Regions from separate parts of the Homo sapiens genome. Here region 2 is linked to region 1. Evidence: fine-mapped expression QTL. A gene starts in region 1. The other region holds a variant in brackets. All regions are shown on one strand. Distances are from middle to middle. Region 1 holds the start of ZFP41 (ZFP41 zinc finger protein). Region 2 has its middle 4.1 kb from the start of LY6D.

The links. PIP is the estimated chance that this variant, and not a neighbour inherited with it, causes the effect.
Region 2: its variant is fine-mapped to the expression of ZFP41 in sigmoid colon (GTEx, PIP 0.99).

The regions. Positions count from the first base shown.
Region 1 is chr8:143,245,813-143,248,712 of GRCh38, reverse strand. ZFP41 (ZFP41 zinc finger protein) reads right to left here and starts at 1,774. Exons shown (of 3, transcript NM_173832.6): 1 at 1,571-1,774. RefSeq lists silencers at 1,340-1,389, 1,430-2,319, 2,520-2,679.
Region 2 is chr8:142,789,216-142,792,115 of GRCh38, reverse strand. No RefSeq gene overlaps it. Among named protein-coding and RNA genes, the nearest start is that of LY6D, 4.1 kb to the right of the region's middle. The variant C/A (reference allele first, on the strand shown) is at 1,570.

The DNA.
Region 1 (2,900 bases):
CTCTGCTGGGGTGGGCAGGGGGTGGGCCCTGGTGCCCAGGATAGAGGATCACAGCCCAAGCTGGCTGGAGTTTGAGGCCGGGGTCCAGCTCTGGTAGGAAACAAAGGTGAGAACCAAGAACCAGCACAGAAGACCAGTCGACCAGCTGTTTGCCTCATGGGCAGGGCGGAGCTGGAGAAACGGCAGCTCTCCAGGGCATGGCGGGAACCTATCTGGCTCTCTGCAGACTCCACTCCACGGCGGGGCGGGGGGTGGTTTGTGAACCCACTGAGCCTAACGGCTGCTGCCCGAGGCCTGTGTGGGGGTCCTCCATGCTGTACAGCACTGTTCCTTCTTCCAGACACTTGTCACTGCACGTGTGGCTGGTCACTGACATGGCAGTCTCCTTATGCGACAGGGTCTCCTGAAGGCGAGGATCGTATCTTTTTTATCTCCAAATCCTAGTCACATACTGTGGTCAGGGAACATTCTCCATAACGGCTCTGTCGACTCAACTTAGGCTGGCAGGTGCTAACCGGCAGAGACTGGAATGACTCACTTCTCTACACGCTGCCCACCCTGAGAAATAAAATATTTCTTAAAAGCAGAGTGGACTGGCCGGGCGCGGTGGCTCATGCCTGTAATCCCAGCACTTTGGGAGGCCGAGGTGGGCGGATCACGAGGTCAGGAGATCGAGACCATCCTGGCCAACATGGTGAAACCCTGTCCCTACCAAAACACAAAAAATTAGCTGGGCGTGGTGGCACGTGCCTGTAGTCCTAGCTACTCAGGAGGCTGAGGGAGGGGAATTGCCTGAACCCAGGAGATAGAAGTTGCAGTGAGCAAAGGTCGCGCCAGTGCACTCCTGCCTGGCGACAGAACAAGACTCCGTCTCAAACAAAAAAACCAAACCAAACCAAAACAAAAAACCCCACACGCAAAAAACAAAAACGGATTGGACCATAGCGATTTTCTTGGCCTCACCTCACAGGCCTGTAGACAGGAGTGATTAGCTAGTTACAAACAGCGCAACCCACGCTTGCCACACCCCTAAAGACTGGGGTTCTGGTTCTGTCGTGCAACTCCAGCGTAGCTCCGTCGCCTCTCTGGGCGGAGGACCCTTCACTTGTAATATGAAGCTCTGGGTATCCGTGGGCGGTAAGGGCTGCCTAGAAAACCTCACTCACCCTGGCGCCTCCCTCCACTACTTTCAGGGATCTGGGTCTCATGGAGAGACTGGAACATTAGTGGGCTTGAGATTCAGGGGCAATCTGCACTAAAACAGCCTGCTGGGTCCACGGCCTGCCAGGGGCCTGCTAGCTGTGCCAAGGCCTGAGATGCCAGGCATCTGAGCCAGGCGGAGGGGCCCGCCAGGGTCCCGTGCGTGCTCCTAGTTAGAGGCTCTCCTTTCAACGGCAGAGCCCCGCGGCCCACGTGCAGAGCTAGGTCGGCCTCGGGGCCGGCGCCCGGGAGGTGCTCAAAGCCGGGTCTTGCCACATCCCTGGAGCGCCGGGGTGCGGGGAGGCGGCGGGGCCCATACCGACGCTGCGCGTCCTGGGCCGGAGGCGGCAGGCAGGAGCCCAGTGAGTACCTGGCTGGAGACGAGAGGCGACGAGGACCTCCCGCTGCAGAGCGCGGACGCGCCCGGGCCCTACCAGGACTGCTGGAGGGCGGGGAGAGGCGCGCGCCCCTCGCGGGGGCCGGAGGCAGGAAAGGAGAGCCCTAGATGCGGGACCCCCCAACAGCTCCCCACCAGTGCCAGCGTCCCCGTCGGCCCTAGGCACCGGCAGGAAATGCCCGCCCGCTGACCCGCCCCTTCCGGCGGCCGCGCTAGGAGCCTGGGCCGGACTCGGTGATGGTGGGCGGTGGAGGGCTCGGCCCGAGCGGCTCCATCCCCAGCCGACTCCGCCCCCGAAGACCCCGCCCCGATCAGGCCCCGCCCCCTCAGGCTTCACCCATAACTGCCGCCACGCCCGCAGGGTCCTCCCCGAGCTGACCCCGCCCCTTTACAGTCGTCTATGGCAGGCGCCCTCCCGAAGGCTCCCCCGAAATCAGGTCCCTCCCCGAGCGGGCCCCGCCTCCGAAAGCTCCTTCCCGAGCCGGCTTCCCCTCATGCCCCGCCCCCTCAGGCTCCGCCCTCGTGTCCCGCCCCCGAAAGTTCCTCCCCAGCCACCTCCCCACATGCTCCGCCCCCAGGCTCCGCCCCATGTCCCGCCCCCAAAAAGCCCCGCCCCGAACCGGCACCCTCATGCCCCGCCCCCAGCGGCCCCGCCCCGCAAGGCCCAGTCCCCAGCAGCTCGGTCCCGAGCCGACCCTGTCACGTAGGCTGCGCCCACCAGACTCTCCGGATCCGACGCGCGTGGGCTCCTGGCTCCAGACCCCCAACGGGGAGGTCGCGGCCGCGTGCTGGGAGACTTGTCCCTGAGGACGCTCCCCGCCAACCCCCAGCCCCCGCCGACCCCCAGCTCCCGCCTCCGCCGACCCCCAGCCCCCGCCTCCGCGGCGCCCACGGCTTGCCTCCACGGGAAGTCGCTGTCTCCGCCTTCAGCGCGGAAGGAGAACCGACGCCTCTCCAGGCCGCGGGCCCCTAGCTAGGCGGGCAACGCCTCCACCGCCGCCGCCACCGCGTGCGCGCCCTGGCGAGCCGTCCCCCACCACGTGGCCCCTGCCGCTCCTCCCGCCGCAGGCAGCCCCTCCGGGATGTGCTCCCAGCCGCTGGCTGTGCTCACTCCACTTCCTGCCTGCCCAGATCGCACTGAGCCGCCAGGCCCGCCAGAGCCCCGCGTGTTAGTTCCCTACGTACCGCAAATTGGGTGTCCTAAAACGACATCCGCCTATTATCTCAAGGCTTCTGTGGGCCAGAAGGCCAGGCTTAGCTGGGTCCTCAGCTCTGGTCAGCCGCTGTGTTCTCATCTGGGGGC
Region 2 (2,900 bases), 460 kb after region 1:
TTGCTGAGAATGATGTTTCCAGCTTCATCCATGTCCCTGCAAAGGACAGGAACTCATCATTTTTTATGGCTGCATAGTATTCCATGGTGTATATGTCAAATGGTAGATTGATTGATGGATGACTGGATGGATGGAGGATGGATGATGAGTGGATGGAGAATGGATGGATGAGTAGATAGATGGATGGATGGATGATGAATGGATGGAGGACAGATGGGTGAGTGGGTGGATGGATGGAGGATGGATGATCAGTGAATGGAAGATGAATGGATGAGAAGATGGATGGATGGAGGCTGGATGGATGGAAGATGGAGGATGGATGGATGGAGGATGGATGGATGAAGGCTGGATGGATGGAAGGTGGGCAGATGAGTGGATGGATGGATGGATGGGTGGACAAATGGTAGATTGATTGATGGATGACTGGATGGATGGAGGATGGATGATGAGTGGATGGAGAATGGATGGATGAGTCGATGGATGGATAAGTGAATGAATGGATGGGTAGACAGATGGTAGATTGATTGCTGGATGAGGGATGAATAGATGGATGGAGAATAGACAGATGAGTGGATGGATAGATGGGTGGGTGGATGAGTGGAGAATGAGTGGGCAGATGGTAGATGGATGGATGCATGGATGGATGGAGGATAGAGGATGGATGAGCAGGTATGTATTGGGAGCAAATGAAGGCAGGGGAGTGGGGGAGGAAAGTGAGGTGGGCCCTGTGCTCACCAGCCTTGAACCTACCTCATGGAGCTAAGGGTTGGCAGCCACAAGTTCCAGGCCACAACAGGAAGTAGACTGAGCTGTGGCCTAGCAGAGGGGAGAACCCAGGAGTTCAGCATTAACACAAACCCTCTGACATTCCCTAGAATGCTGGTGGGAGCATGTCCTAATGTGTGAAAATAACCCCCGTCCAGGGCACCTGATTCTCATCCAGGTTCCTTAGGTCTTGCAATTCTAGGGTTCTGTGTTCTGCAAGCCCATGCTAACAGCCTGCAGTCTTGGGACTCTGAGGTCCCCACAGTTGTTTGCGCTATGGTTCCGTGGCTCCAGGGCTGCACTCTGCTGCAACCTCTCTCCCCCTACCACAGGCTGGACACAGTTCACACCCTGAGGGATTCTCCCTCATCGCCCAGACTTTGGCACTGGGCACCCTTGACTAGCCCCCTGAATGCCAGCGCTTCGCAGGGACCATGCCGGTCCTAGGTGCTGAAATGGTGCCTCTCCCAGGGAAGGTGCCAGCCCCGCCTGTGGGCACCACCAGCCAGGCCTGGGAACAGGTTTGTTTCTCTTGGGCCTTAGGAACCTAGAGCCCCAGTCCAGCCTTTGCTGGGAACAAGCTGTGCCCCAAGGTAGAAGGGTTTCTCCATCCACGAAACTGCTCCCTAGATTGCCCCCCTGGCAGTGCAGGAAAGAGAGACCTGGCAAGGATGAGGGGCCTGTGTGGAGGGGCAGAGCTGGCCTCCATCCCCGGCCCCTGGCCCGGCCCGGCCCGGCCCATGGACACTAGGTGTACCCTGGGAGGGGTGGCTGGTAGCCAGGGTCCCAGGGGGTGACCTAAGA[C/A]TAGGGCAGGGCCAGGCTTGGCCCTGGGAAGCAGGTGAAAGAGACTTTGCCTGAGATTGTGGTGCTATGTGTAAAGGTGACTCCGGCACTAGAAAGAGGAGTGGGGAGGCCAGGTGTGAGGGAAGAGCCCAGGCCCAGAGGCCCAGCCCAGCTGTGGCTCCCGCTTGCTGGGTGATGCCGGGCAAGGCCGGGCCCTTGCTGTCCATCTGAGGCCCCATCTGTGCAGGTGAGGGGGCTGAGAGGATCAGGGCAGCCTCTAGAAAGACACCACACACTCAGCCGCTCAGCTTGGGGCAGCCACCTGCCCCTGCGGGGGAAAGAGACAGAAAAGCGGCCTGGCACCTGGGCCCCAATGCCCTTGCCCGACACCCACCTGCTTACCAGGTAATGGCCACACACCCTTCCCTGCTTAGACAGCTCCAACAAGGTTGGTCCTCCCTTGGCTTCTCAGCCCCAGATCCTCACCCTCCACATCATCACACCCCTGCTGTGGGTCCCACAGAGGCAGCAATTGTCTGTTCCCACTCCCTACTGGTCTGCAGGCCCTGGGACCTGGGCCCTGTCTCTCTTCTCTCCTGGTTTCCATTATATCCAAAGTGCCTTGCATATGGTTGGTCCTTATAAAATGTTGAAGAATGAATGAATGAATGAGTGAGTGAATGAATGAATGAATGGAGTGCCTCAAGGCAGACGGATGCATTTTGGAACCCCTGGGGTGTGGCTGGGATTCTGGCTTGCCCAGGTAACAGCCTGAGGGTGAAGAAGCCCTTCCTTGTGCCCTGGGGCTTCCCAGCTCCTCCAGCCCAGGCAGCTCCTCCAGCCCAGGCAGCTCCTCCAGCCCGCGGCCCCGCCTTGTCCACCGGGCACCCACTCAGTCAGCTCCTCCAGGCCAGGGCCCTGACTTGTCCACCAGGCACCCACTCAGCCAGCTCCTCCAGCCCAGGGCCCCGCCTTGTCCACCGGGCACCCACTCAGCCAGCTTCTCCAGCCCGGGGCCCCGCCTTGTCCACCAGGCACCCATTCAGCCAGGACAGGGCCCAGGGCTGGGCTGGTGCAAGCCTGGAGTACGGTGCTGTGCCGCCCTAAGCCAGGCGCTTCCCTCTCTGAGCCACCACACCCTTGTGTGTTCCTAGGGGCCCAGCATAAGGTAGAGGGGGCAGAAGGTGGGGGAAGGGGCATGAGCAAGGAACTTCGGCTCCAGACAGAAGCCTGGGCTTGTCCCCGTGCCGGGTTTCCTGGTTCAGGGAGCAGGGGGCAAGGCTAACGGGGTGGGGCGGTGGTTTTCCCTGCCCCAGGCCCCTTCGTCGCCTCTCCCAGGTGTCATTTCTGCT